7 linked regions of the Homo sapiens genome follow. The protein of the gene in region 1 purifies or fractionates together with the protein of each later gene. This does not show direct contact. Each region holds a gene or a part of one and is shown in the gene's direction. Other genes may lie near its edges.

Region 1 (4,227 bases):
ACGGGCTGCGAGTGTGATTTAGGCTGGGCAGGTGGCTTAGCGCGGGGCCCTGGGCAGCCACCTACCCTGTCCCCTTTTCCCCCCACAGCTGCCGCAGCGGGAACCGCAAGAGCTTGGTGGTAGGAACGCCCTCCCCGACCCTCTCCCGGCCCCTGTCGCCATTGTCGGTCCCAACGGGTGAGTGTGGGAGCAGCCAGCGGGTGCTGTGTCCTGCCTCTGCCCCGCTGACTCAGTTTCCCCGCCTCCTCCTCAGCAGGCAGCAGCCCCTTGGATAGTCCTCGGAATTTCTCGGCTGCCTCTGCCCTAAATTTCCCCTTTGCCCGGAGGTGAGTGATTGCCGGCTTTGGGAGACAGTGCGGGCACCACGGGCAAGGGTTGGGCAGGGGCACGTGCTCGGTGGCTAGACCTGGCTCCTCATTCATTTCATTCACCTTTTCCCCTCCCCTGGCCCGTCTGGTGGTGGTCTCCCCCTCTGGCTCCCATTCCCGGCAAATGCATGCCATCTTGCAGCCACATCCCACGCATGGACAGGTAATTTCAACCAGCCCAGGGGGTGGGGGGTCATGGGGGGATATAGCCCTAAGAATCATTAACTCACTAAAGAAATCATTCATTCATTCACTTAACAAGAGCTGATTGAGCACCTGTCATGTGCCAGACGCTTGCATTTCATTTATTTATTCATACAACAACATTCATTAAGCACCCACTGTGTGTATGCTCTGTGCTGCGGGCTGAGGGCATGGTCGCAAATGGGCAGCTGGCCCTGAGCCCCTGGGGAGTCCTCCGTTTGGTGGGGGGTGGTCAATGTGTGCCCCAGAAGCTACAGCTCAGAGGTTGAAGCTTTGACAGGGGACACAGTGGCAGCTGGACTCACGGGGGGGCTTCCTGGAAGAGGTACCTAAAGAGAGAGAGCATGCAGTGGACTTGGTCAGCCTGTGTCTCTGTTCTTGGTTATTTTCAGGAGATCCTTCCTACAACAGGGCCAGAATATGCTGGCCACAGTGTCTGTTCTTAGTCCCCACAAACCACAGGGGCCAGGCCTTCCTTCCATCTGTTCTTGTTCCCCTCTCCAGGGCAGACGGCAGAAGATGGTCCCTCGCGTCTCTCCCATCTTCCGGCTATGGAACCAACACACCCAGCTCCACCCTCTCGGTACCCATAGCCCCACCTTGGCAGGTGGACAGGCAGATGCCGGGTTGTGGGGGGACACATCTTTGTGTGTTTTTTTCAAGGTGTTGGATAGTTGTGCAGTCAGCAAACATACTAGTTACTTCCTCCATGCACGCCCCATTCTGGGAAATGCAGGGTCCCCTGAGAAGACCCAGCCTTGGCCCCAAAATAGTCCCTGGTTGGGGAGATACAGATATCCTCAGCCTATGGGGTCAGGGCCTGACCAGAGGGGGACTTGGGGCTGCCCAGGGGTACAGGCAGAGAGGACTTCCTGGAGGAGAGGGCATCAGAGCTAGGGTTTTGAGGGATGCATAGGAGCTAGGCAGGAGAAAGGATGTTACCTTCTGATGGCCAGCAGGCAGCCTGGGCCTTGAGGGGTGGTGCTGGGTTCCTGGCCACAGCACTGACGGTGAACTCATGGCTCTGATCCCCACCACTCTCTACCAGTCAAGCTCATCCTCCCGGGAACGTCTCCACCAGCTTCCCTTCCAGCCGACGCCGGACGAGCTGCACTTCCTGTCCAAGCACTTCCGCAGCTCAGAGAATGTGCTTGATGAGGAAGGCGGCCGGTCACCCCGCCTCCGACCCCGCTCTCGCAGTCTCAGGTGGGCCGCGACCTCTGGCCCCAGCCCCGGCCCCTCCCTGGGCTGGTGTGGAGGCCCAAGTTGTGGCTCCTCCTTCACCCCAGCCCTGACCCTGCCTGAGCCTAGCCTCTGATTCTTGTCCCTCAACCCTGGCTCAGATCCCCCAACATCCTCCCCTGGGGTTGGTCTCAGGTCCCATATCACAAGCCAGCTGTCTTCCTTTCAGCCCGGGCCGTGCAACGGGGACCTTCGACAATGAGATTGTCATGATGAATCACGTGTACCGGGAGAGGTTCCCCAAGGTGGGCAGCGCCTGGCGGCTGGACCAGCCCCTGCACTTCTTTCCACATTGCTGTCCCTCCATGGAACTCTGTCTTCCTGGCTATGTCCCCTTTGCCAGTCTGTTCATTTCTGTCTTTCCTTCCCCTTCCGTTGAAAGATGTCGTTCCTCCTGCACCAGCCCTCCCACCCGATCGCCCCATTGCCCCATCTCCTCTCTCCCCAACCATGCCTCTCCTGCCCCATTCTGCGTGTGTCACTCCAGCCCCGCCCTCTGACCAGGTCGCCCCGTCTCGCCCCACCCAGGCCACAGCACAGATGGAGGGCCGTCTGCAGGAGTTCCTGACGGCCTACGCGCCCGGCGCCCGGCTGGCGCTGGCTGATGGCGTCTTGGGCTTCATCCACCACCAGATCGTCGAGCTGGCCCGAGACTGCTTGGCCAAGTCTGGCGAGAACCTCGTCACCTCCCGCTACTTCCTAGAGATGCAGGAGAAGCTGGAGCGGCTTCTGCAGGATGTGCGTGGTTTTTCGCATGTTGAGGTTTTGCATGCAGTGGGACGTGGAGTGAGGGGGGTCCCCAGGCCAGACGGTGCTGAGGACCTGTGGGTGATGCCACGACCCACCTCCCCCAGGCCCATGAGCGTTCGGACAGTGAGGAGGTCAGCTTCATCGTCCAGCTTGTCCGGAAACTGCTGATCATCATCTCACGGCCAGCTCGGCTGCTGGAGTGTCTGGTAAGTTTCTCTTTCTACGGCCAGCTTGGGGTCCAGGCAGAACTGAGATTGGGACCACAACAGTCCTGCCAAGATACAGGTGACAGTTCCCATCGTGTAGGGCTTTGAGAGGAACACAGGGTGCTATTGGGCTAGCGTGGGCTTCCCTAAGGAGGCAGCGGGAGTGGAGACCCAGTGGGTGAGCTGGGAAGGGTGCTCCAGGCAGAGGGAACAGCATGTGCAGAGGCCTGCAGGTGGAACCAAGCCCTGGGTGACCAGCCCTCCTGTGCCCCTAGGAGTTTGACCCTGAGGAATTTTACCACCTGCTGGAGGCGGCTGAGGGCCATGCGCGGGAGGGCCAAGGCATTAAGACTGACCTTCCACAGTACATCATTGGGCAGCTGGGCCTGGCCAAGGACCCCCTGGAGGGTAAGCCGGGATGGGAAGAGGAAACCAAGGCTGGGAAAGGCCGGATGGAGGCCAGGCACGGTGGCTCACACCTTTAATACCAGCACTTTGGGAAGCTAAGGCGGGCAGATCACTTGAGGCCAGGAGTTCGAGACCAGCCTGGCCAACATGGTGGAAACCCCCCCCCTACTAAAAATACAAAAATTAGCTAAGTGTGGTGGCGCATGCCTGTAATCCCAGCTACTCAGGAGGCTGAGGCACAAGAATTGCTTGAACTCAGGAGATGGAGGTTGCAGTGAGCTGAGATCGCGCCACTGCACTCCAACCTGGGCGACAGAGCGAGACCCTGTCTCAAAAAAACAAAAAAAGAAAGGGCAGATGAAGCCAGGATTCAAACCCAGGCCCATCCGATTCCAGAACCACCGCACTGTTCTTTGTCTCTCTGTGGCCTTGCTCTTAGGTCACCTGTGGGAATTATGCTGAGACCCTCTGATCTTTTGGGGCCCAGGGGCCTCAGTGTCCTCAAATGCCACGTTAAGATGGTCAGGAAGCCTGGGGACCAGTGTTAGCAGTGGCCTTCCCTTTGTCCTGCAAATTCACAAATGACTTTACCAATTTCTGTGGCCTTTACTGTGGCCCAGAAAGTGAACTTGGAGTCAAACAGGACAACCCGTAGGTAAGAAGACGGTCAAAAACTCCCACAGCCGGCCGGGTGCGGTGGCTCACGCCTGTAATCCCAGCACTTTTGGGAGGCCGAGGTGGGTGGATCACAAGGTCAGGAGTTCAAGACCAGCCAGGACAACATGGTGAAACCCCATCTCTACTAAAGATACAAAAATTAGCCGGGTGTGGTGGCGTGTGCCTGTAATCCCAGCTACTCGGGAGGCTGAGGCAGGAGAATCATTTGAACCCTGGAGGCGGAGGTTGCAGTGAGCCGAGATCACACCACTTCATTCCAGCCTGGGCAACAGGGCAAGACTCTGTCTCAAAAAAAAAAACAAACAACTCCCACAGCCAGCCAGGTGCAGTGGCTCACGCCTGTAATCCCATAATCCCAGCACTTTGTGAGA
Region 2 (4,227 bases), on another chromosome or scaffold:
GGCCAATCTGTGCTCTGTGATGTCTGGGGCCTCAGTTGGAAGACTTAGAAGTCTGAGGCTGGAATTGTCTGAAGTTTGCTCACTCATAGGTCTGGCAGTTGCTGCTGGCTGTCAGCTGAGACCTTATTAGCAGAAACACCTACATGTGGCTTTCTTTGTGGGCTGGGCTTTATCCCTGCATGGTGGCTGGGTTCCAGGGCGGGTGTCTCAAGAGAAAGTGAGCCAAGAGAAAGTTGTATTTTCTTTTTAATGACCTAGCCTTGTAATAAGATTGGACATTACCGTGTTTACCCTTGTTCCACATTGATTTTCCTGGGATATTTGTTTTTATCACAACCACTCCTGAGAAACAATCTTGACAAAGATATAATGTCATTGATAGGAATGGAGCAATATACAGTTGGTCCTCTGTATGTGCAGGTTCTGTATCCACAGATTCAACCAATTTCTGATTGAAAATATTAAAAAAAAATACAATATAACTACTTACATAATTAGGTATTATAAGTAATCTAGAGATAATTTAAAAGTATTCGGAGGATGTGCATTACTTATATGCAGGTACTCTGCCATTTTATGTAAGGGGCTTGTGCATCCATCCTGGTGGGGGCCAGAGCTGTTCCTGGAAACAATGCCTGTATCCCACGGCCCCACCTCCCCCCAACCCCTGCAGATATGAAGGGACTGCTGTAATGTTACTGTGAACTGCCTAATTTACATCATTATTGACATGGTTGTATTTTCCTGTGCTGCCCCAGAGTACCTTAGGACACAGTTTGGGAGCCAGGGTCCCAGGTGGAGAGCTTGTGTCTTCTCTACTCATCTTTAGCTAAGCTAGATTCCGGGCTGGGATCTGGAATCGTCTGAGGGCCCTTTTCCAGTAGTTGATACTGGCTGTTGGCTGAGGCTTTAGCTAGGGCTCTTGGCCAGTACACTTACCCATGGCCTTTCCATGTGGCCTGGGTTTCTTGCCTGGTAGCTGGGTTCCGCAGACAAATGTCTTGAGAGATGGAAGTGAAAGCTGTATCACATTATTTGATCTAGCCTCAGAAGTTGCAGTGTGTTACCTCTATCTTGTTCTGTTCATCAAGGCAGTCACAAAGTTTCCCCTGGTTTTCAGGGAGGGAAGATAGATCTCCCTTTTGATGGATATATGGCAATGTGTTGGAAGAGCATGTGGAACCAGAAGTAATGCTGTCACTATTTTCTGAAAGTATAATCTGCTTATCAGGTACATCTGGTACCTGATAACTGTAGAATTTCAGCTATACTATAGGCAACATTGTCATGACAAAATTGACCCCTAATTCATAGATTGCATCTGGCCTGGGAGAACTACGGGTACCTGATGGGGATACCATATTTAGGACTTAAATGCAGTGATTCTTCTTACTGCACGTCTTTTGCAGGGACCCTGGAAACTGCATGTGGCCCTGTTACAAGAGATACTGGCTGCTGTGGGGCAGTAAGCCAGGCAGCTTGCAGATCTCATATCCTTACTCTAAGATGATTGACTGTGTGAAGTGTCACCTGCATGAACACTACAATAACTCCCACTGAGAAGGAGACCCAAGGCTGCCCTGCCAGCCTGCTGTGGTTCTGTCTTTCATCTTCCCGAATGGACTGGGCCAGGTGTCACCTGTAGTGGTCCTTTGGGTCTGAATGTTTAGTGGAACCTAAGAATATCCCTGGTGATGCAGCAGTAACCAAAATTTCTAGCATCTGCTTTAACTTCCTCTTAACCTGATTCATTTGGAAGGCATCAGCTAACTATTACTCACTTAATTGATCCCTGCTGGAAATTTAGATTATCTCTGGTGTTTCACTAGTATGAAATGATGCTATGTTTGTTTATTCATTCAGCAACTTTCCCTTGCCATTATATTTCACACACCATCCAAAGTGCTAGAGATTGGACATTGAACAAAACAAAGTCTCTGCTTCCTACATTAAAATGGGGGGAGGGATGTAGGAGAGGAGATATATGTACAACACACACACACACACACACACACACACACACACACACACACACACACACACACACACAATGTCTATACTATGTCAGGTGGTGAAACATGAAGAAAAATAAGAGTGATGGAGTTGGGCCAGGCACAGCCTGTAATCCCAGCACTTTGGGAGGCTGAGGCAGGAGGATTGCTTGAGTCTAGGAGTTTAAGACCAGCCCTGCCAACATAGTGAGACCCAGTCTCTACAAAAAATGAAAAAAAAATAGCTGGGTGTGATGGCATGCACCTGTAGTCCCAGCTACTCAGGAAGCTGAGGCAGGAGGATTACTTGAGCTGAGGAGGTTGAGGCTGCAGTGAGCTGTGGTTGTGTCACTGTACTCCAGCCTGGGTGGGAAAAAAAAAAAAAAGAATGAGGGGGCTGGAGAGGTGCTATTTTTAAGAATAATTAGGGAAGAACTCTGATAAGGTAACATTTGAGCAAAGATTAGAATCAAATTAGGGATAAAGCCATGTAGATATCTGAAAGATGAATTCCTTTTCAGGCATAGAGGATAGAACTGCTTAGGCCTTGAGGTTGGAGTATGCAGTATCCTTCAAATTCCACAAATTTGTTTCTTTTCTTTCATTTTTTGATACAGAGTCTTGCTCTATTCCCCAGGCTTGAGTGCAGTGGCACAATCGCCTCTACCTCTGGGCTCAAGCAATCCTCCCACCGCAGCCTCCCGAGTAGCTAGGACTACAGACATGCACCATCACATCTGGCTAGTTTTTTTTTTTTCTTTTTGTAGAGACGATGTTTCACTATGTTGTCCAGGCTGGTCATGAACTCCTGGACTCAAGTAATCTGCCCACCTTGGCCTCCCAAAGTGCTGGGATAACAGGCGTGAGCCACCATGCCCAGCTGTTTATTTTTTCTTTCTTTCTTTCTTTTTTTTTTTTTTCTGTTTATTTTCTTTAAACACATATTCTTAGAAGTGGAATTGCTAGGTCAAGAGATGTGCATATATATATTTTTTGCCTTTGATATATGGCACCAAGTTGCCTGCCAAAAGCGGTGCCAATTTAAGTATCCACTCAGTTTCTTTCCCTCATCAGAATTCTTTTCTGAAATTGTATGTCATACAGTTTATTTTAAAGAAATTTAAAAAGTACAGAATGTTATGAAGGGGAAAAGTTTGTATTAATGAAATGGTTTTAATTACAGGATAGAATAGATTGTTAAAAGATACTTTAACAAGTTCTCCTTACATTGTTAAAATATATGAAGAAAGATCCCTGTATGTAAAAATTATTCAATGACAGAGGCTCCCCCACAATTTTTTATTAATTAGAACATTTCAAATTATAAAGCCAGAGAGTATAACTACATAGGAAACCATTGTTATGAAATGTATGATTCTAGAAAATGAATATTCATCTATGTTCTGTGTATACTTTGATCAAATATATTAAAATTTGAAAATGAAGTTCACAAGTAGTTTATGAAAGAAATACAATGACTTTGGAACAAGGTTAAAGCTTTATTCACAGATAAGTTTTAAAAGCACATTTTATTTTAACTTATATTTCTCTATTTTTCTTTTCTTTTTTTTTTTGGAGACAGACTCTCACTCTGTGCCTCAGGCTGTAGTGCAGTGGAAAAATCATGGCTCACTGCAGCCTCTACCTCCTGTGCTCAAGTGATCCTCCCACTCAGCCTCACCAGTAGCTGGGACTATAGGCACATGCCACCACACCTGGCTAATTTTTTTTTTTCTTTTCTTTTTTTCTCTATCCCAGGCTGGTCTCAAACTCCTGGGCTCAAGCGATCCTCCCGCCTCAGCCTCCCAAAGTGCTGGAATTATACAGGAATGAGCCACCGTGCCCGACCCCTTGTTTAATTCTTCTCTTTTTCTTCTATTCCTATCAGATTTTAGATCTTTCATAACTTAGTTAAGTCCTTAAAATCTTTCTCCAAGAACTTCAGGAATTTGGGAAGTTTAACTTTCGTATTAGGTAACGTATCATAATATAGAAAGCCAGGTATAGTAAAACATTAATTTGGATCCCACTCATTGAGATGTCAGTTCTCAGTGAGTTAAAAAATGTTGCAAATAGCCAAGCATGGTGGCAGTTGGCTATAGTCACAGCTACTCAGGAGGATGAAATGGGAGGATTGCTTGAACCCAGGACTTTGAAGCCAGACTTGACGACATATTGAGACCCCTGTCTCTTAAAAAAAAAAAAAAAAAGGAAAAAATGTTGTAAATAGTTTATT
Region 3 (4,227 bases), on another chromosome or scaffold:
GGTATTGGGTGCCTGAGCTGGCATTTTGTGTAAGTCCAGGAGCCCTTGATAGTGTGCGTCACTGGGGTTATTGATCGTGGGAAGAAGACAGCTTGGCTGGCATCTCACCTTTTCCTCTGAGTGGAGAAGCTGACTTGCTTTAAGTGCCCAAAGCAAAATTCTGAGTAAGGGTAGATTTGCTCTGTTATTGTTTTTTGGAATCTTAAGGCAAGAGAGTGTCTACTTGTTGGTTTAGAACCTTTGGAATAGGTTTTGACAGCCTAACTCAAGTTAATCCAGTAGCTTCTCTCTCTAAGCCTGTTGTTAGGGTTTGTGTGCATTTTGAGAGAGAATTCTATGATTGGGTTGTCAGTCTGGTAAGGCTAGATGATGACCCTTTCTCTGGAGCCTACGTGGATCTCTGAAGTGCTTTTCCAGCCCTGGTTTTATTTACAGCTTCGACAAATTTAAACGTGACACTAGTGGAGTGGCTGTGTGGTCTTGGGAATTTTTGTGTTCTGTGATGCACATGTTTTTGGGAGTCTACAGAAATGAGTACCTCATAAGCAAACTAAAAGCTTTCCAAAGCTTGCTGTAAATGCCTATTTTTAGCCTTACTTTTGGCTCAAATGTTGGTGTTTTAGTTCTTTAAGGGACACATGCAGTAACTAGTAATAAAATATGTTTCGTGATATCTCTACTTTCTTGTGGGGTTCTGTATTCTGGTTTAAGCGTCCAAGTCTTACATTTGTAGTTTTAAGTCTTGGGATTTGCATTTTGGTTTTTTAGATCTCCCTCCCTCCCCAGAGTATTTTTAAATGTTTAAAATTTTTGTCTTATCCTAGCCATACCCCTTTTAAGTATAAGATCCAAGACGTCTAAGTTAAGAGATGATACATAGCGAATATTCTGGGGTCAAACTGAGTGGGTTCAAATGCCACTGTACCACTTGTTAGCTGTGCTTCCTTGGGCAAGTTATTTAACCATTCTATGCCTCACCTTCTTAATTTGTGTAATAGGTATTTATGATTCACCTGCCTCATGGGGGTATTACCAGCATTCATTGTTATGATAAGTGTATTTAGCCCAGTGCCTGGCAGGTAGACATTGTTACTTACTCTGGGTCTTGGTGGGACTTTTCCCTGGGTCTCTGGTTTTCTCTACCTGTAATATGATGGGGTTGGTGAATGCAGATCTTTCCTTTTCTTGTGTTATATAAGTACTCCGTGAAATGTATGGGATCTGTCTCCTTAAAACTTGACTTTTGCTTATCCACAGACATGAAGGGCATGGATGGATAATTTAAAGGTTGCTGACTCTTAAGAATTAGCTATTTTTTGCTTTGGAATGTGGTGAGATGAATTTTAAAAAAATAAGTTTTAACTTTTTAGTTTGCCTTTTGTAAAGATTTTCTTTGGGGGGAGTTGCACGTGTGCTCTCAGGGATATGAGGAAAAGCCAGCCTAACTGGACTGAAAGTTTGCTGTGGCTGGTGCACATGTAGTGCCGTGAGACTTGAGAGTACAGATAGTCCCCAACTTATGATGGTTCAATTTATGATTTTTTGACTTTATGTTGTTGGGAAAGTGATACACATTTATTGGAAACTGTACTTCAGGTACCCATACAACCATGGTTTTTCACTTTCAGTACAGTATTCAATAAATTAATTACATGAGACATTAAACGCTTAAAATAGGCTTTATGTTAGATGCTATGGCCATCCGTAGGCTAATATAAGTGTTCTGAGTGCATTTAAGATAGGCTGGGCTAAGTTTGTTTGTTTGTTTGTTTGTTTGTTTGTTTGTTTTTTTGGAGACAGTCTGGCTCTGTCGCCCAGATTGGAGTGCAGTGGTGTGATCTCGGCCCACTGCAACCTCCACCTCCCGGGTTCAAGCGATTCTCCTGCCTCAGCCTTGAGAGTAGCTGGGATTACAGGCATGTGCCACCATGCCCGGCTAATTTTGTATTTTTAGTAGAACGGGGTTTCTCCATGTTGGTCAGGCTGGTCTCAAACTCCCGACCTCAGGTGATCCACCTGCCTTGGCCTCCCAAAGTTTTGGGTTGGGATTACAGGCGTGAGCCACCGCGCCCGGCCCTAGGAGCTACTTCTGATCCTGCTCATGACCAGCAATGTGGACACCGGCAAACGCTTTGCTTTCTCTGTGCCTGTTTCTTCGTCTGTAAAATCAGGGTATTAGACTAGGTCTAAATGTCTTAAAATTTTTCTAGTATCAAAAATTTTTTTCTAAAACTCCCTCCCCACAAAAGAAAGAAACCAAAGTAGAGCTTTATATATGTGTAGCTTTGTATTTGCGTTGTGATTAGGAATCCAAGCTCTCTGGAGGCTGGAGAAACTCTTCTGGCTTCAGGAGCCTAAGTCGATGGCTTGGGGGTGTATAATGGAGCAGCCAGACATTATGTGCCTTACAGTGTCTGAAAGCACACAGCACTGCCTGAAAATTTCCTCCACCAAATAAAAACTGAACCTAAATCTAACAGAACCATAGATCCAACTGCCAGTTTATAGGGAAATGGGGCTACAGGAACAGACTAATTAGCCATGAGGTAGGCAGTTATTCAGTTTCTAAATGTGAGAAATTCTACAAGACACACTATTTCCAATAAATAAATGGCATTTTTTAAAGGGAAGAACTGTTACAGATGAAGAAAGTTGAGACATCAGTCGTGCATTGTTGTGGATCTTGTTTGGATCTTGATTCTTGACCAAATGTCCAAAGACATTTTGATGACAACTGAGGAAATTGACTAAGTTAAGAAATTATCTTATTTTGTCAGGGGTGATAATGGTATTATGATTGTTTTTAACTGTGTAACTGGATATATTGTGCACCCCCACCTAAGAACTGTTAGGTTAGTCTATTACATAAGACTTAAGGCTTTTTCCTATTGTGCACTTGATCTTAGCCAAAAGGCCAAGAAGCAATATAGTGTGAATCACTTTCTCTTCTTCTAAGGAAAGGTCACAATTAGGACACCCTTTGAAGGGGAGAGTGGGAGGCAGCTTTCATCGGGAGCCTTCAGCTGGCCTGGCCCCTTTCCTTTTGCACAGGTAGTTTGAGTTTCATACTAACCCGGAAGTGAGTGCCTGCCAGGTAGGGGAAGGTTTTTAGGAAGTGGTTTTTGGCCCTTTGGGAGGTAGAGGGTAGTCACAAGCTTTCTTGAACTCTGAACCTCCTGAGGGTCGGGGTCTTTCTGCTGACCCACCCACTGTCTATAGTGGGACCTGAACTGGAGTAAGCAATCTTAATAGCTGTTACTGAGCACCCATTCTCTTTTCTGGGAGGTGGGCAGGGTGGGAGGAGGAGGAGGAGCAGCCGGCCTGAAACTACAAAACCTCTTTAAGATGGAGAGCTTGGCAGATGGGAGTTCCCCTGTTTGCAAAACCCAAGACAGCTCAAAGGGAGTAATTAGGGTGTTGGGGCCACTGGAGGTTCAGCAGGTGCCTCAGTCCAGACTCAAAAACCTCCCTGGCTGGTCCAGAGTGATCTAAGGGAGTGGCCAGGAGAGAGGATGGCCTTACCTTGCCTGGGATTCAAGAAAGGAAGTAAGTTTTGGTACCTCGCTGGTGAAAACATGGGAAACAGCACATCAATGTGAAGGGAGAAGGTGATGGGATTTAAATTAGAACATGGGCAGGGTACTTCTCTCTGCTCTCACTTTGTGACCTTAGATTGTTTGTCTAACCTGTTTTCCTTATTCACAGAATGGGGCTAATCCCGGTGCTGAGGTTGTTTAGAGCGTCAAATTGCTGTTGAGTATGGGGCAGTACAGTTCATGAATTGAAAAAGTCCTGCTGGGCGCGGGGGTTCACACCTGTAATCCTAGCACTTTGGAAGGCCGAGGCGGGCGGATCATGAGGTCAGGAGTTTTAAGACCAATCTGGCCAGCATAGTGAAACCTCGTCTCTACTAAAAATACAAAAAAATTAGCCAGGCATGGTGGCGTGTGCCTGTAGTCCCAGCTACTCAGGAGGCTGAGGCAGGAGAATTGCTCGAACCGGGGAGGCGGAGGTTGCAGTGAGCTGAGATCGTGCCACTGCACTCCAGCCTGGGTGACAAGAGCAAGACTCCATCTCAAAACAAAACAAAAAAACCAAAAAAACCTCCTACACAGAGGTAAGATGTAAGTTTTTTTTTTTATTTCAGAAGATTGCATTCCAAAGCCAGATATTGGTAATTACTCACTCTGAGGGTTTATCTGTGCCTTTCCGGAACTGAGTGGATAA
Region 4 (4,227 bases), on another chromosome or scaffold:
TTGGGTGTGACTGTGTTCCAGTAAAACTTTTGTTGACAAAAATAGGTGGCCAGCCATATTTGGCCAATTATCCATAGTTTGCCTGTTCTTATTTGTGAAATATGCTTCTTTGTTTCATCCTTTTCTATTTTGTTTTCCACCTGGAAAAAATTATCCCAGAATATATATCTCATGCTGTATTATTGCTGCATGATTATAATGTTTTTCTTAAATTGTTAGAGGCTTTTTCAGAGTTTATCCAGAGGAAAGGAAGTCTTCAATGAGTTGAAATGACATCTAAAACTCAGTGAGGGCTTATCTGTTCTATAGCTTGAAAAATCAGGTTATCTAGGTCATTGTTTTAGTTTAATAGTCACTAGATTAAGATTAGGTAGGCAAAATTTTTTTTTCGGGGGGGGGGTGGGGGACAGAGTCTCAGTCGCCCAGGCTATAGAGTGCGGTGGCGCAATCTCGGCTCGCTGCACCCTCCGCCTCCCGGGTTCAAGCAGTTCTCTGCCTCAGCCTCCTGAGTAGCTGGGATTACAGGTGCCTGCCACCACGCCTGGCTAATTTTTGTATTTTTAGTAGAGATAGGGTTTTCACCATGTTGGCCAGGCTGGTCTTGAACTCCTGACCTCATGATCCACCCACCTTGGCCTCAAAGTGTTAGGATTACAGGCGTGAACCACCACACCCAGCCAGTAGGCATAATCGTAATAAAAATAGTTTATATACCTGGTGCTGAAGTAAAAAGATCACAGAAAAGTAATCTGCCTTTTATCCTGTCTTTAGGTCAGAGGTTAGGTTGTGGTTTATGTGGGGTTTTTTGACACAGGAGGAGCTACCTCATTTCCATTCTGAAAAGTAAAGTTTGTTAATTTGGAGAGCAATTGAATAGGAATCTTGGAGAACTGATATGTTAAGACTTTCACCATGTTTTGCAGCAGCTTTTTTTTCTGTGTCAGTCACAAAAAGGCAATTCAAAATTAAAGACATGAAGGTGTGGCCGGGTGCAGTCACTCACATATCTTGAGCACAGGAGTTTGAGCCCAGCCTGAGCAACATGGCAAAACCACGTTTCTACTAAAAATACACACAAACCGGGCATGGTGGCGCACTCCTATAGACCCAACTACTGTGGAGGCTAAGGTGGGAGGATCACCTGAGCCTGAGACGTCAAGGTTGTAGTGAGCTGTGATAATGCTACTGCTCTCCAGCCTGGGCAACAGAGGAAACCCTGTCTGGGGGGAAAAAAAAAGACATGAAGATTTATCTGAATTGTAGAGTGAAGTGATACTACTATTCTTATTACTTACTGAAATAATTCACTTAATGATTGTGTTCCAGAAAAGAACATTGGCTTAGACAGTAGCTTTGAGAGAGAAGGGCCTCTATTTTAGGCACATACTGTGATTTTTGTGCATATAGCTAATTAATTATGTTAATGGATTATTTAACAGATTCTTTTGTTGTTCTGCTATAAAATTTAATACAGTAGGATACTTAAGAAAAACAAAGCTTACATTTTGTGTACGAGATTTTGGACCAGAACTTGAAGTGTATTTAATGTTTTACAACCAAGTTGTTAACAGAAATTGAGTCAAAACAGTTTTGTTAATGTTGGACCCAAAAGTAGAAAAATAGTCTTTTTTTTTTTCTTTTTTTTTCAAATGAGGAAGTAAAGGTCTGGGCATTAGGGTTTTTTTCATCCAAACTGGATGAAAAAGCTCATGAGACTTTAGCAGGGACTAGTCATGACATTGTCAAGGAAATTACATCTTGAAAGATTAATGGTTAAATTATAGCTTGTCTGAAGTGTCGATCTTAACATTGGCTTAGAATAGTTTACAAAAAAGCTTGCTATTACAAAATGAACCTGTAGTCTCTATTAATAGAGGTTCCCCCAGTATTGAGGTGGAATTGGCATTATTAATATTATATAATATTCTGATGTATTTGACTGATGAATATTTGAGAGTGGCTAGTAACTATTAATGACATTATTAGTTCATCAAAACCACACTACTTTGGAAAAGTGGGTCATTTGATTGTAATCAGAATTTTAAGAAAGTTGGTAGAAATTTACAATGAAGATAGTTTGCTAATATATTAATAGTGTTGATAGCTAGGAAGTATATTTGGAGGAATTTTCCCCTTTAAAAAAAAAGTCTGGGTGTGGTGGCTCACACCTGTAATTCCAGCACTTTGGGAGGCCAAGATAGGAGGATCACTTGAGGCCAGGAGTTTGAGACCAGCCTGGTCAACATAGCGAGACCCTGTCTCTGTTATTTAACAAAAAAAAGAAAGAAAGAAATGCAAAATATTGCATAGTTCCCTGTATACCCTTTAGCTTCTCCTGGTACTAACATCTTACATAACAATATATGATTATCAAAACTAGGAAGTTAACATTGGTACAATACTGTTAACTAAACCACAGATGTTATTCAGTATTCCATATTTTTCCCTATTCTAGGATCCCATGTTCCATTTAGTTGACATGTCCCTTCAAGTCTTCTCCAGTCTGTGACAGTTCTCCAATCTTTCCTTGTCTTTCATAACACTGACACTTAGGAGAATAATGGTCATTTTATACAGTGTTCCTTAGTTGGGGTTTGTCTGATGATTTCTCATTATTATGTCGAAGTTATCCATTTTGAGCAAGAATACCATAGAAGTAAATTGGGTCTTGCTTGGTGCATCATATCAAGGGGTACAGTATGTTGATACGTCTTATAACTGGTCATGACAACCGTGATCACTTGGTTACAGTGGTATCCTTAAAGTGGTTTCTGCACTTTAAAGTCACTATTTTTTTTCTCTTTGTAATTAATACATTTCATGGGGAAGATACGTTGGGATTATACAAATAACGTTTTTCCTCAAACTTTTGTCCACTAATTTTAAAGAATCTTTTGATAGATCTTGTCTGTGACAAAAATTATTGTGGTGTTTGCCTAATGAAGATTTTTTTTTTATTGGGGGGGTGATTATTTTTAATGCTACTAGATTTTCTAGAGATTCTAATTAAGCAAGTAAAATCAAGAGGGAAAGTAATCGTTACAAAAGGATTCAGCTTTGAAAATGCCGGTTGAGAGTTGTGTGTACTTCTGTGTATGCTGAGGATTTAATAGGAGGGTAAAAGTGAAGTAGATGAACTCCTAGCATTCCTTTTTAATACTGCCCACTTAAGAGAAATTTAAATCCTAAAGGCACCTTCTAAGTTTCAAATTTAAATTTTATTTTTAGAGCTAACACATGAGTTTCTACAAATATTGGAGAAAACGCCTAATAGGTTGAAGAAGATTCGAAACTGGAGGGTAAGAGAATTGACAGGGTTTAACAGAATTTCAGTCTTTTATGTAACATTTACATAGCTAACCAGTTTGAATTTTTGTGGTTAAATAATCTTTGCAGTATTCCTGAATAATTCAACGTATCTCAAGTTACATATACTCACATATTCAACTACTGAGTCCAGTGGACTTTGCTAAAGTACATTATACTTTTAAAAAATTTTTTGCAGTGATTATGACAAAAGTATCCTCTTCATTTTACAAATGGGGAAACTGAAGCCTAGACAAGTTAAATTACTTTCTGAAGTGCTGGGCTAGGATTTAACTTGTATCTGATTCTAAAATGGGTGTTTTCAATTTTTTATAGCCTTTTATGCCTCTAAGGCATTTATTTACTGACAACATAAAATCTTGAACCCCAGGTCATTTTATTTCCATATGTTTAATATATAATGTTTTTAATATATAACTTTTATAAGACAAGAAATTTGCATTAAATTATTTTGCTATATCACTGCTTCTTCTGTGTTTTATTTTAATAGGCTAATCAGGCAGCTAGGAAACCAAAAGTAGATGGACAGGTATCAGAGACACCACTTCTTGGTTCATCTTTGGTCCAGAATTCCATTTTAGTAGATAGTGTCACTGGTGTGCCTACAAACCCAAGTTTTCAGAAACCATCTACATCAGCATTCCCTGCGCCAGTACCTCTAAATTCAGGAAATATTTCTGTTCAAGACAGCCATACATCTGATAATTTGTCAATGCTAGCAACAGGAATGCCAAGTACTTCATACGGTTTATCATCACACCAGGAATGGCCTCAACATCAAGACTCAGCAAGGACAGAACAGCTATATTCACAGAAACAGGAGACATCTTTGTCTGGTAGCCAGTACAACATCAACTTCCAGCAGGGACCTTCTATATCACTGCATTCAGGATTACATCA
Region 5 (4,227 bases), on another chromosome or scaffold:
AGCTACTGGGGTGGCTGAGGGAGGAGAATCGCTTGAACCCGGGAGGCAGAGGTTGCAGTAAGCCAAGATTGTGCCACTGCACTCCAGCCTGGGCAACAGAAAATGTGTCAACTCTTGGGCAAATAGGTGCTGATTTCATGGCATACAAAGCAAATTGACTTCTGGTATAAATCTTCTGTAGCTATAAGAACTTCACGTATGCATGTATGTATTACAGAAAAATCCTTTGACACTTAAATGTAGGGGGAAAAAACACCTCTACTTGAGTATTTGGGTTAGTTAAGGCTTTATTGAACTTTCTTGCGTATGTTTTTTTCTTACTCTTCAGTGGCCCGAACCTGTAACTTGATCTTGATTGTTCTGGATGTCCTGAAACCTTTGGGACATAAGAAGATAATTGAAAATGAGCTGGAAGGCTTTGGCATTCGCTTGAACAGCAAACCCCCCAACATTGGCTTTAAGAAGAAGGACAAGGGAGGCATTAATCTCACAGCCACTGTAAGTGGGGAATATGACATGGGGCAGGCTGCTGCAGGAATTGGAATGGGGAGTGGATTGGGGTGCATGGACCCTGACATTGGAAAATTTCCTGGCTTTTCCCTGCACTAATTGAGATAACACAATGACTTTATAATGACTGACAAGAAAAACTTCAAGATTAGGATAGGAGCCAGTCTCAGACTTACCTTTGCTACTTATTTCCTCTTTTGGATTATCTATTGGGAATGATATGGGCGTGTGGACCAATATTATGCTTGCATAAAGTAGATGGCCGCCAATATCTTCTGTTTTCATTCATTTAACACAAATTTATAGAGTGCCTACCACGGGCCAAGCATTATTTTAGGCTCTGGGCAGGAATGGAAGAGGGAATAGTGAAACCCCCTGCTTTTATATTCTAATTGGATAGAATAGAAAACAATGTTAATGAGTAAAATATAATGTATTCGTCAATGATAAATATAAGAACACAAAGTAGGGAAAGGAGATAAGAGTGTTGGTGTGAGGGTTGCAGTTTTAAGAACGTTGGTCAGGGAAGTCTTTACTGAGGTGACATGAAGGTGTGAACCAAGTGGATATCTTGAAGAAGAGCATTTGCTTCATGCCTCAACCTCCTGAGTAGCTGGGATTACAGGTGCCTGCCATCGCACCCAGCTAACTTTTGTATTTTTAGTAGAGACGGGGTTTCACCATGTTGGCCAGGCTGGTCGGTTTCATTCTGTTGCTTAGGCTGGAGTACAGTGGCACAATCATAGTTCACTGTTAGCTCAAAACTCTTGGGCTCAAGTGACCCTCCTGCCTCAGCCTTCTAAGTAGCTAGGGCTAAGTCACATGCCTCCAGGCTTGGCTAATTTTTTTTTTTTTTTTTTTTTTTGGTAGAAACGGAGATTTGCCATGTTGCCCAGGCTGGTCTTGAACTTTTGGCCTCAAGCTGTCTCCTGCTTCGGTCTCCCAAAGTGTTGGGATTACAGGTATGAGCCACCATACCCAGCCATGTTTTTTATTTCCTGAGCTAAAAAAAAAATGAACTCTTATTACTAAAATGGTAGGACTTTTGGTAGAATAGATTTGGAGGGAAGGAGAAGATCAGGATGTTAAATTTTAGATGCCAGTGAGACATCCAGGTATTTCAGTCAAGAGGGCATGTGGGGTAGGCTGGGCATGGTGGCTCATGCCTGTACATCTATAATCCCAGCACTTTGGGAGGTTGAGGCAGGAGGATCACTTGAGCCCAGGAGTTCAAGACCAGCTTGGGCAACAAAGTGAGACCCCATCTCTATAAAAATAATAAAGAAGGCATGAGGAATTATCTAGGCTGGATATATAAATTTGGTGATTATCAACTTTAATGTCATGGGCCTAACTGAGATCACCAAGGATGTGAGTATAGATAGAAAAGAAAAGAGAGCTGGGTGCAGTGGCTCACACCTGTAATCCCAGTACTTTGGGAGTCCGAGGTGGGCGGATCACAAGGTCAAGAGATGGAGACCATCCTGGCCAACATGGTGAAACCCTGTATCTACTAAAAACACAAAAATTAGCCGGGCATGGTGGCACGCACTTGTAATCTCAGCTACTCGGGAGGCTGAGGCAGGAGAATCGAACCCAAGAGGTGGAGGTTGCAGTGAGCCGAGATGACGCCACTGCACTCCAGCCTGGTGACAGAGCGGGACTCCGTCTCAAAAAAAAAAAGAAAGAAAGAAAGAAAAGAAAAGAGAATCGGCCAGGCACGGTGGCTTACGCCTGTAATCCCAACACTTTGGGAGGCCGAAGTGGGCAGATTACATGAGGTCAGGAGTTGGAGGCCAGCCTGACCAACATGGCAAAACCCTGTCTGTACTAAAAATACAAAAATTAGCCAGGCGTGGTGGCACGTGCCTGTGATCCTGGTACTTCGGAGGCTGAGGCAGGAGAATTGCTTGAACCCAGGAGGCGGAGGTTGCAGTGAGCTGAGATCGCGCCACTGCACTCCAGCCTGGGCAACAAGAGCAAAACTCCGTCTCAAAAGAAAAAAAAGAAAGAAAAGAGACTCAGAGAAATAAGACTTCTTAGACCAAGAGAGAGAAGGAAAACTGAAAGAGTTTGAAATACTGGAAGCCAAGTAAAGTGTTTCACATAGGAGTGACCAATTCTGTCAAATGCTGCTTCTCTGTCAGAATTGAGGACTGAGAGTTTCCTACTAAATTTAACACTTCAGAGCCCAGATGATTTGACTGGCATAGGTTTCAGCTGTCCTGCCCAAAACATCTTTCCCATTATCCCGTCTTAATATTCAAATTTGAACATTTAAGATTATTTCTGTGTTAGTTTCAGTGCTGCCATAATACGGTACCACAGATGGGTGGCTTAAATAACAGAAATTTATTTTTCATAATTCTAGAGGCTAGAAGTCTGAGATGAAGTTGATGGCAGGGTTGATTTCTTCTGAGGCTTCTGTCCTTGGCTTACAGATGGGACTTCATATGGTGTTTGCTCTGTGTGTCTGTGTCCTAATCTCCTTTTCTTATTAGGACCACCAGTATTGGATTATGGCCCCACCCTAATGACCTTATTCTAATTTGATTACCGCTTTAAAGACCCTATCTCCAAATACATCACATTCTGAGATACTGAGGTTAAGACTTCATGTGAATTATTTGGTGGGGGAAGGAGGAACACAGTTCAGCGTGTAACACCTTCCTTGGAGTTTGGACATTTATTTCCTACTAAAAGTCAGTGACACTCATCCCGGATGTATTTAGTAATGAGTTTGCATCTTAGCTAGAATTTTCCAGGTACATGGATATTGGTACACTTGACAAGTATTTTTTTTAAATTTTGTGCTGACTAGTCATCTGCTATTCCCTTTCAGTGCCCCCAGAGTGAGCTGGATGCTGAAACTGTGAAGAGCATTCTGGCTGAATACAAGATTCATAATGCCGATGTGACTCTACGTAGTGATGCTACAGCTGATGACCTCATTGATGTGGTGGAAGGAAACAGGTACTGACTGAGTGTGCAGTCTGTGCCTGACTGAATTGGAAGCCTTGTGATGGAAACAGTATTGGATCTTGAATCTGGCAGAAGTTTATCTTAATTCCAGTTGTCCTACTGTCTTTTTTTTTTTTTTTTTTTTTGAGATGGAGTCTCACTCTGTTGCCCAGGCTAGAGTGCAGTGGCGTGATCTCAGCTCACTGCAAGCTCCACCTCCCAGGTTCAAGAGATTCTTCTGCCTCAGCCTCCCGAGTAGCTAGGATTACAGGTGCGCACCACCACGCCCAGCTAATTTTTGTATTTTTAGTAGAGATGGGGTTTCATCATGTTGGCCAGGCTGGTCTTGAACTCCTGACCTCAAGTGATCCGTCTGCCTCGGCCTCCCAAAATGTTGGGATTACAGGCATGAGCCACTGTGTCCAGCCTGTGCTACTATCTTAAATGATAGTGGGCTTTGGTTTCTTTTTTTTTTTTTTTTTTGAGATAGAGTTTCGCTCTTGTTAGCCAGGCTGGAGTGCAGTGGCGCAGTCTCGGCTCACTGCAACCTCCACTTCCAGGTTCAAGCGATTCTCCTCCCTCAGCCTTCCTGAGTAGCTGGGATTACAGGCCTGTGCCGCCACGCCTGGCTAATTTTGTATTTTTAATAGAGATGGGGTTTCTCCGTGTTGGTCAGGCTGGTTTCGAACTCCTGACCTCAGGTGATCCACCCCACCTCGGTCTCCCAAAGTGCTGGGTTTACAGGTGTGAGCCCGG
Region 6 (4,227 bases), on another chromosome or scaffold:
CGAACAGAGATTTACCCACATATTTATTAACAGCAAACCAGTCATTAGCATTGTTTCTATAGATACTAAATTAACTAAAAGTATCCCTTATGGGAAATGAAGGGATGGGCCGAATTAATTGCAGCAGGAACACGTCCTTAAGACACAGATCACTCATGCTTTTGTTTGTGGCTTAAGAATGCCTTTAAGCAGTTTTCTGCCCTGGGCGGGCCAGGTGTTCCTTGCCCTCATTCCTGTAAACCCACAACCTTCCAGCTTGGGCGTTAGGACCATTATGGACATGTCGCAGTGCTGCAGAGATTTTGTTTATGGCCAGTCTTGGGGCCAGTTTATGGCTAGATTTTAGGGGGCTTTCTCCCAACACAAAGTAAGTAGAAGAAAAGAAATAATAAGGATAAGATAATCGGTGAAAATAGAGTACCAGAAAATCAGAGAACAGTATCAAAGTTAAAAACTTGTTTTTTGTTTTTTTAAAAAAGAGCAAAATTGATAAACCCCTAGTTAGGCTGATGAAGAAAAGGAAATAACACAAATTACCAATCTGGAATGAGAATGGGGCTATCACTGCAGATGCTACAGACATTAAAAGGCTAATAAGGGAATATCATTACCAATTTTATGCCAATCATCTCAACAAATCAGGTGAAATTAGTGAATTCCTTGCAAAATTTTACTTACTGAAACTGACCAATATAAAATAGAAATTTTGAGTGTCCTATATGTTAGAGAAATTGAATTTATTGTAAAAAATCTTTTCATCAAGAAAATTCGGTCCTGACCAGCACAGTGGTTCATGTCTGTAATTCCAGCACTTTGGGAGGTTGAGGTGGGCAGATTGCTTGAGCCCAGGAGTTCAAGACCAGCCTGGAAACATGACGAAACCTCATCTCTACAGAAAGTAGAAAAATTACCCAGGCATGGTGTTGTGCACCTCTAGTCAGTTCCAGCTACTAGAGAAGCTGAGGTTGGAGGATTGCTTGAGGCCAGGAGAACAAGTCTGCAGTAAGCCGAGGTCATGCCACTACACTCCAGCCTGGGTGACTAAGACCCTGTCTCAAAAAAAAGGAAAACTCTAGGCCAGATGGTTAAATTGATGAGTTGTATCAGACATTTAAGGCAGAAATAAGATGAGTCATAATAAAATTTCAGAAAGTTAAGGAGGTAGGCCAGGCACGGTGGCTCACACTTATAATTCCAGCAATTTCGGATGCTGAGACAGGAGGATCGCTTGAGGTCAGGATTTCAAGACCAGCCTGGCAATATAGGGAGACCCCATCTCTATAAAAATTTTAAAAAATTAGCTGGGTGTGGTGGTGTGTACCTGTAAAGTAGTTCCAGCTACTTGGGAGGCTGAGGTGGGAGGACGGCTTGAGCCCAGGAGTTTGAGGCTGTAGTGAGCTGTGATCACACTGCTGTATTACAGCCTGAGCAACAGAGCAAGACTGTCTCCCACCAAAAAAAAAAAAGTTAAGGAGGCGGGAACACTTTCGAAATACAGTCATGTGGTGCTTAATGACAAAGATACATTCTGAAAAATGTCTTATCATGCAAATTTCATAGAGTGTGCTGCTTACATAGACCTTATAGCCTATACACACATAGGTTGTTTAGTATACTCTATTATTCCTAGGCTACAAACCTGTACAGCATGTTACTATACTGATTAGGTAGTTGTAACACAATGGTAAATATTTGTGTACCTAAACACAGAAAAGATACAGTAAAAATACAGTATTATAATCTTAACAGCACTGCTGCTATATATGCAATCTATTGTTTACTGAAATGTTATGCAGTGCATGACTAATTTTATGAGGCCATCATAACCCTGATAAGAAAACCCAACAAAGACATGTTTTTGTAAAAAAGCAAATTACTGACCAAATATGTGATTAGCATAGATAAAACAATTAATATGTTTTTCAAATCCAACAATGTATAAAAAGGATAATAAAGCATGACCAAGTGGAGTGTATGGAATGCCAGTTTGGTTTAACAGTCATAACTTTATGTTGGCTGGGCATGGTGGCTGAGGCCTGTAATCTCAGCACTTTGGGAGGCCTAGGTGGGGGGATCACTTGAGCCCAGGAGTTCGAGACCAGCCTGGGCAACATAGCAGGACCTCACCTCTTTTGTTATCTCTCACTTCTTTTTATTTAAAAAAAAAATTAAAAAATTTATGTGTGCTTTTATATGATCAGTTAATTAACAAAAGTACAAAGGCAGCTGATCAAAGAAAAAATTATCTTTTTAACAAATGGTGCTGGGACAACTGGATGTCCATATGCAAAAAAGAACCTCAATTCAAACACCTCACCTTATACAAAAGTTAGCTTAAAATGAATCATAGATGTAAACTTCTAAGTACCTCTAGAAGAAAACAGGAATCTTTCTGACCTTGGATTAGGCAAAGATTTCTTAGATAGCACACTAAAAGCGTTATCCATGAAAGGAAAAATTGATTAATTGGACCTTATCAAAATTAAGAACTTATGTTCTTTAAAGACACTATAAAGAGAATAAAAAGACAAACCAGCATATTTTAAAAACTCTTGAACAACCTAAAAAATCCTGTATCTAGGCTGGGAGCGGTGGCTCACGCCTGTTATCCCAGCACTTTGGGAGGCCAAGGTGGGCAGATCATGAGGTCAGGAGATTGAGACTATCCTGGCCAACATGGTGAAACCCCGTCTCTACTAAAATATAAAAAATTAGCGGGCATAGTGGTGCGTGCCTGTAGTCCCAGCTACTCAAGAGGCTGAGGCAGGAGAATCACTTGAACCCAGGAGGCAGAGGTTGCAGTGAGCGGAGATTGCCCCACTGCACTCCAGCCTGGCGACAGAGCAAGACTCCATCTCAAAAAAAAAAACAAAAAACAAACAAAAAAACCCTGTATCTAAACCATCAATTTTTAAAGGAGCGAAAGTTTTGAATAGACACTTTGCCAGAGAAGATAATTGGATAGCAAATATGCACATGAAAAGATGTTGAACATCATTAGTCATTAGGAAAATGCAAATAAAAACCACAGTGAGATGCCACTGCACAATCAATAGATTGACTTTTTAAAAATCAATTGAGAGACATGGAGCAGTTCTAACTGCTCCACATTGCTCATGGGAATGCAGAGTGCCACATTCACTTTGGGAAAGTTTGGCAGATAAAATTAACATGTACTTAATATATAACCCAGCTGTGCCATTTCTAGGAAAATTTATGTTCACAGAGAAACTTGTGTCCAGTTTTTAGTGGCTTCAGGGGTGATGGAACTTGATTTTGGTGGTGGTTAAATGACTGTTCTTTTTTTTAAACACAAAGAACTTAACACTAAAAGTGGTGAATTTTACTATATGTAAGTCATACAATTTTTAATGAAAAAGAATGCTCAGAATCTGAAATAAAATCAGTGTATATGAACAGAATATAGGAGGAAAACTACAACCAATTTAATAGATGTGAAAGGGCATTTGACAAAATTTGTCACCCATTCATAATAAGTCAGCAAACAAGAACTAAAAGGGAATTTCCTAATCTGATAAAGAGTGTCTAGAAAAACACCACAGACATGCTGTCCTCCAGTATTGAGAACAAGACATTCACTCTCACCACTGTTACTCAGCATTGTACTGGAAGTCATTGCCAGGCACAGGTTTGTAGGTTTCAGCCATTTTTGGCTATTTGACGTTGACAAGTTACTTAACCTTTCATGGGTTTTAGTTTCTTCAGGTTAAAAAGACTGGGGGGCGCTGTGGGAAAGAGAGTGATAATCTACCATGCAGGATTGTTGTGAGGGTTCAAGAAGATGTTTAAGCACCTAACATAGTTACTTGTATATGGTAGTCATACAGTAGATTAGATAGTTTTAATTTGTTCAGTGTGTGTGTGTGTGTGTGTGTGTGTGTGTGTCTTCTGTGACGATAGCCTCTTTCCTTAAACTAAATGAACATCTTAGTGAATTTTCCTATTCTGGAGAAGGAAAAGGAAGAAATAGGGGAAAGATAGGCATTTGACTACCTTTCATTTGGATAATTGAAAATTATTAGTTCTCTCCAGTAAGGTAATGGAATATATATAATTACCTGATAATAAAAATTTATTTCTGAAAACAATTCAGAATCTCTCATCTTGTACAGATTGAGTATCCCTTATCCCCAAATCCAAAATGCTCCAAAATCTGAAACTTTTGAGCACCAACATGACACTCAAAGGAAATGTTCATTGGAGCAT
Region 7 (5,027 bases), on another chromosome or scaffold:
AAAATTTCATGGATAAAAATGAAAAACTTAAATGACCTCTCCTCTCCAACAGTACGGAAAATTTTGCCTGAATTTACCTAAAGTCTACGCCACGGACTTGATTCAGTGAAATAGGATGGTTGGGCAGGGCACTGAACCAGGGATCAAACTTAAGAGATGTGTGGTCGCATGACTGCAATTGAACTAGAAGCATTACATCAGGACTGACCACCTTGGCTAAACCACAGACTTTGTCCAGACAGTCTGCCCACTTAGATATATTCCAAGGGGATCATCAAACTGGTGGGAGTGGCTGAAACACCGAAATGATAACCTCCTTGTTGACTCCCACAGATCCAAGCCATAAGTGTTCCCATTTAGTTAAAAGCTACCGTTGCCCGCCACTAGCATGACTTACTTGGTAGGAGGGATGTCTGTAGAGAAAAGGTCTATTTCAGTATCAGCCAGCAAAACAGCCTTCATTCCCCTAGAGCTGAGCACTTGTTTACAGAATTTGCAACACAGGATGGACACGCACCTGTCCTTGAAACTACAAATGTTGGTAGACATGGCGTCGCAGGAAGGATGAGGTGTGGGATTTTGAAAAAGGAAACAAGAGTAATGCTCCTACTATTTTGATTCCCCTAGGCTAAAATTCAAATTGCGGGACCTAGAGCTTTTCTAAGTCCTAATATTGGGAAGGAAATTAGTTTTTTTTTCTGTTTTCCCGGTGGCGGAGTAGAAGAAGTATTTATTGAGTAGGAACAGGGGAGCGTGGCAAACTTGGCTTTCCTTTTAACTTTTGGAGAAGGGAGTGGAGTTTGAATTGGAGAGGAGGCAGGTGGAGTTTGAAGGGAACTTCTCAACGGCTTTCCCTTTCTGCTGTCTAAAGGAGTCCTCTACACTTCAGCTCCCGCCCCTTCATAGCAATTCCCTCAGCCTTCTCCGATCGTCTAATTTAAAGCTTCTCCTCTTTTAAGACATCCCTTCCCCAGCATTAAGCCCCTCCCCCGGAGCGCTCCGGTTCCCTGCTGTCGGATCTCGGGCTAAGCGTCCCTACCCACGCCTCCTCTTCCCAGGATTCAGAAACTCCCTTCTCTTTTTCTGCCAGGCGATCCCGGATTCTCCTCCGTCCCGCCCCTTTTCTCCCGGACCTTCCTCCGCTCTGCGGGTCCGCGGGCCCCTCTCCTGGCAACCCCCGGCCCTCAGCGTGCTCGCGCTGTTTCTCTCGCGTCCTCCCTTCCCTCAGCTGTCCCTCGTGCCCCCCGCAGTCCCCTCAGGTTTCTTCCCGGAGCGGCTGTTCCCGGGCGCGCGGTGGTGTTGGTGGGGCAGAGCTGAAGTCGCTTTAGAGGCTCAGTCGGCGCTGGGGTCTGTCACCGAACACGTTGGTTTTCGCTCCCTCTTCCGCTTTTCCTGCCTCTCCAACCCGGTATCAGTTTGAATTGCCAGCGCCGCGCACCGATTGGAAGAACTAGAGTTAGCCCCAGTCCCTCATTGGAAGGCTCCGGGGCCTCCCCTCACGAGAGCTTAGTGGCTTGAAGACCGTAGGCACCGCCCCAGTAACGGTGCTGAGATCAATTCGGCTTTCTGGTTGGCTGAGCTTGGCTCCGCCTCCGATCTCATTGGCCGGCTTCGGGAGGTTTCGGCAAACCCTGCCTTCGCCCTAGTGAAAGTGGCAAGGCACGCCCTTCCCGCTTCTTATTGGAAGAGGTTCTACAGTCTCCACCGGTCTCTACTCTTTATTGGTTAAAACTCCCCGCAACACCCCTCCTCTCTACCCCGGCCCAATTGGCCGTGCCTTAGCTCAAGAGTTTGTGTTTGGTCGTCGGTTCCACCTTAATCCCGCCCATCAGTTCTACTTAGGGGTTCAACAACCCGGGGTGGAGCTTAATCTGTGACCACGCCTCGGCAGTGCTAGTCACACCTCCAAGTTTTGCCAGCTCCTCCCCCTCATTCCGGGCCTCTCGGGATCAGCTCTTCCTATTGGCTATGGGCCCCATCGGTCGATAGAAAACGGGCGGTGATTGGTAAAGGGGTGGGCTCTACTTCCCGGCGGGGTCCTGCGGAGTTGGCGGAGGCTCCTCCAGGGACTGGGGCACCGATCTGCGTAGAAACGGGTGGCGGGGAAGAGAGGGGAGGAGAGCTCTGAGTGGGAAGCGGAGCCGGGGGCCTGGGACCCGTCGCGTCAGAGCCAGGTAAAGGCTCCTTCCCTCTTCCTTTTCTTCCTCCCGGCCGCCGGGCTGGAGCCCTGACTGAACAAACCGGGGCTGGGGCGGGAAGGAGAGGGCGCGGATGCTGCTCGCGGCATCGCCTTAGCGGTGCCGCCCGGAATCCCTCAGACCGCCCCCCCTCCACCCTCTCCAAATCTCCCAGTACAGCCCATAATACTTCTCAGGACTGCGAGTCTCTCCGCCCATCACTGTACAGCCTGGGACTCCGTCCTGGCTCACGGACCGCAGCGCAGCCGGCACCCAGCCGCCTCTCCCTTTCCTCCGCACACGGGCAGCCGCGGTCCACCGTAGGGCAGTCGTCGTTGGCATCGCGCGTAATCATCGGCCGGCCTCCTCCAGTGTCTCCCAGCCCTGGCGGACAGCCCGGGTCCCAGCCTAGGACCCAGGAGGATGGGTGTTCCGCGCAGCTTCCGGGGCTCTCCCCGAGTCCCACCCCCCGGCCCGCCCCGATGGACTTCTCTTCGCCCACTCCCATCCCTAGACCACATCTCGGCCCCCACAGTTCCTGACATCCTTGCGCTTCACGCAACATCGCGGCCCATGATCATGCCCCAATTCCCCTCACCTCTAAGGCAGCCTTCTCCTTGCCGCCTCCCGCCTTCCGAGCGTGTGCAACTCCAATTGTCCCCGGGCTCCCTTCCAGCCTCAGGACCCCATCTCACACCCGCCTCTCGCTTCCCGCTTCCCGCTCGCCTGAACCCCGCCGCCTCTGCTCCCTGTCTTGTTCCCTCAGCGTGGCCCCTTCCTCCAGCCGCGGGAAGTGGGAGACGCTAGCGGGAGCTTCCTCCTCCCGGCGCTCGGAGGAAAAGGAAAGACCAAGTAGAAAGGGTCGCCGCTGCGGCACGCGAGGGAGCTAGTCGCCGGGCTCCGCGCTCCCGCTTGCGTCCCTCCAGCCCCCTGGGCCTCGTCCGGGGCCGGATCTTCTCGGGCACCGCCTGGTGCGAGGAGTCAGGACTGCGACCTCACCGACCTCCTCCCATCCCCAGCCTGGGATTGGGTGGGATATCTGGGATCTCTGAGCTTGGGTGTCAAAAAAATATTGGGGGTGGCATTTATAGTCACTATCGTCCCTAGCTTGAGGGAGGCGACGGCTGCCTTCCGCTCGCCGCCCCCCGGTTTTCCCGGCTCCGACCCTATCCTCTAACCCGTTTCCTGCTTCAGCTGACCACATTGTTTTCCTGGATGTGTCCCGTGCCGAGCAGGCTTTTTCCTGCAGATTTGCCCCCCCCCCCATCAACATTTTGCTGCCAAGAGAAGCTAGTAACCAAAAACAAAACAACTGGGAGGAGGGGCGGGAGAGGAAGAAAAGTTGTGCCCTGGTGGCTTATCCCTCCCCGGCTTTGATCCCCTTTGATGTACAGGGAGGTGCCCCGGCCGGGGGTCTGGGGCCACGTCGGGGGCTAGGTCGGGAGGGCTCCCTCGGGCTGGCCGCTGCCCAGCGCTGGCGGGGCTCAGGAGGCCGCCGAGGTGCCGCAGTCCCCGCCTGGTGCCCCGCGTTCCTGCAGTCCCCGCCCGGAGCCCGCGCAGGCGGCTGCTCCAAAGTGTTTTCTTTCAGCCTTAAAATCCGGAGGGAGCTTCCTTCCTCCCCACCTCGTAGCGCCAGGCTCTGCGGGCGGGGAGACGTTAAGCGGACAGGAATGGGCCCAGGGCGGGCTCGGAACGACGTCCCCTACCCCACCCCCGCCGCGATTAGGATCTGCGCTCTGGCTGATCGCCCCCTCCCCCTTTTCCTGCATTTACAGGCAAGTGAACCGGAGCAAACGACTTCCGATCCAGTCTGCGCTGTTGCGGCTCCCGTTTGGGATTTGATTTGCAGCATCTTTGAGCCTCTACGACAAAAAACCGCGAAGCACGCCCAGCCCTCCCCCGGCACCCCGAAAAGCACCCACTCCCTCCCGGGGACACAGCTGGGCGCGTCCACACCCCCGCAGCCCCACACCATGTTGTGCGGAAGGACTTCCACTCCCCGCCTGTGTCGTTGATGTCAGACCCCAGGCCAGCCTCCGGGCGCTGCAGTTCTCCCGGCTAATGCTGAGGCTGCGGCTCCGGCTCTAGCACAGGCACCAGCCGCCGCCGCACCCGGCCCCAGCGCCCACCGTCTGCATGTGCCCGCCGTAGCCGTCTGCCCAGCCCGCAGCCCGCGCTCCACGGAGCGCTGGAGACCACCGTGGGGGGCCCCTTCTGCCCTCGAGAGAAGCGGTCTTGGAGGTATTGATTTAGGTGGTTGGATTTTTTCCGTGGATCTATCAATTCACAATTCGAATTTGGAAGAAAGAAGGAAAACATGACGTCTCCAGCCAAATTCAAAAAGGATAAGGAGATCATAGCAGAGTACGATACTCAGGTCAAAGGTAAGGGCTTTGAAAAATAGCACACTGCAAATGCTCTGTGGACTGGTGAGGCGTGTATTTCCACCGTGATTTGCAGGTTGTTCATTTCTTTGGGTGGAGCAGATGGGGGCAGGCTGACCCCAGAGGTGGTTTCATAGATGGGTCTGAACCTCCAAAGGATGGGCAATGCCAGGGGGCCATTGACACTGGAAAGGAATTTTTGCAGTGGGCTGTAGGAGTATCTTTGTGGGGCTGACCATGATTTTGGCAGCCCTTTCCCCCCCAAGCCGGACAGGGTGGGGGGAGGGGCAGGAGGCTCTTAGAGAAAGGCAGTTTGCCTCCGGTTCTCTGGGTCAGGTTTCCTTGAAAGACAACTGAAATCTGACAGGTGTTTGGACATTTGTTTCAGAGATTGAAGAGGAGTCCAGACAGAAAGGCAACCTTGGGAAGGTGTACCATTTGGAGAGCCTTGGGAGAGGCGGGGTTT

Evidence for each region.
Region 2: the proteins of MAST3 (region 1) and MRPS31 purify together in Homo sapiens (affinity purification with mass spectrometry; one large-scale study listed by BioGRID and IntAct). This does not show direct contact.
Region 3: the proteins of MAST3 (region 1) and LARP1 purify together in Homo sapiens (affinity purification with mass spectrometry, with the first as the bait; one large-scale study listed by BioGRID). This does not show direct contact.
Region 4: the proteins of MAST3 (region 1) and CCNT2 purify together in Homo sapiens (affinity purification with mass spectrometry, with the first as the bait; one large-scale study listed by BioGRID). This does not show direct contact.
Region 5: the proteins of MAST3 (region 1) and DRG1 purify together in Homo sapiens (affinity purification with mass spectrometry; one large-scale study listed by BioGRID and IntAct). This does not show direct contact.
Region 6: the proteins of MAST3 (region 1) and EIF2S1 purify together in Homo sapiens (affinity purification with mass spectrometry; one large-scale study listed by BioGRID and IntAct). This does not show direct contact.
Region 7: the proteins of MAST3 (region 1) and SRGAP2 purify together in Homo sapiens (affinity purification with mass spectrometry, with the first as the bait; one large-scale study listed by BioGRID). This does not show direct contact.

The regions. Positions count from the first base shown.
Region 1 is NC_000019.10:18,121,597-18,125,823, forward strand, and holds part of MAST3 (microtubule-associated serine/threonine-protein kinase 3), read left to right. Parts: intron 1-88; coding exon 89-177; intron 178-253; coding exon of another isoform or gene 254-256; coding exon 257-326; intron 327-510; coding exon of another isoform or gene 511-531; intron 532-1,076; coding exon 1,077-1,155; intron 1,156-1,620; coding exon 1,621-1,778; intron 1,779-1,983; coding exon 1,984-2,059; intron 2,060-2,342; coding exon 2,343-2,552; intron 2,553-2,668; coding exon 2,669-2,770; intron 2,771-3,045; coding exon 3,046-3,178; intron 3,179-4,227.
Region 2 is NC_000013.11:40,760,606-40,764,832, reverse strand, and holds part of MRPS31 (small ribosomal subunit protein mS31), read left to right. Parts: intron 1-4,227.
Region 3 is NC_000005.10:154,758,167-154,762,393, forward strand, and holds part of LARP1 (la-related protein 1), read left to right. Parts: intron 1-4,227. UniProt on the Homo sapiens protein: RNA-binding protein that regulates the translation of specific target mRNA species downstream of the mTORC1 complex, in function of growth signals and nutrient availability.
Region 4 is NC_000002.12:134,949,413-134,953,639, forward strand, and holds part of CCNT2 (cyclin-T2), read left to right. Parts: intron 1-3,228; coding exon 3,229-3,299; intron 3,300-3,817; coding exon 3,818-4,227. UniProt on the Homo sapiens protein: Regulatory subunit of the cyclin-dependent kinase pair (CDK9/cyclin T) complex, also called positive transcription elongation factor B (P-TEFB), which is proposed to facilitate the transition from abortive to production elongation by phosphorylating the CTD (carboxy-terminal domain) of the large subunit of RNA polymerase II (RNAP II).
Region 5 is NC_000022.11:31,419,928-31,424,154, forward strand, and holds part of DRG1 (developmentally-regulated GTP-binding protein 1), read left to right. Parts: intron 1-328; coding exon 329-498; intron 499-3,352; coding exon 3,353-3,483; intron 3,484-4,227. UniProt on the Homo sapiens protein: Catalyzes the conversion of GTP to GDP through hydrolysis of the gamma-phosphate bond in GTP. Appears to have an intrinsic GTPase activity that is stimulated by ZC3H15/DFRP1 binding likely by increasing the affinity for the potassium ions.
Region 6 is NC_000014.9:67,369,969-67,374,195, forward strand, and holds part of EIF2S1 (eukaryotic translation initiation factor 2 subunit 1), read left to right. Parts: intron 1-4,227. UniProt on the Homo sapiens protein: Member of the eIF2 complex that functions in the early steps of protein synthesis by forming a ternary complex with GTP and initiator tRNA. This complex binds to a 40S ribosomal subunit, followed by mRNA binding to form a 43S pre-initiation complex (43S PIC).
Region 7 is NC_000001.11:206,201,477-206,206,503, forward strand, and holds the start of SRGAP2 (SLIT-ROBO Rho GTPase-activating protein 2), read left to right. Parts: upstream 1-2,064; 5' UTR 2,065-2,174; intron 2,175-2,367; coding exon of another isoform or gene 2,368-2,519; exon of another isoform or gene 2,520-2,631; intron 2,632-2,775; exon of another isoform or gene 2,776-3,237; intron 3,238-3,952; 5' UTR 3,953-4,494; coding exon 4,495-4,561; intron 4,562-5,027. Other genes in the region: protein FAM72A, read right to left, coding at 398-549. UniProt on the Homo sapiens protein: Postsynaptic RAC1 GTPase activating protein (GAP) that plays a key role in neuronal morphogenesis and migration mainly during development of the cerebral cortex. Regulates excitatory and inhibitory synapse maturation and density in cortical pyramidal neurons.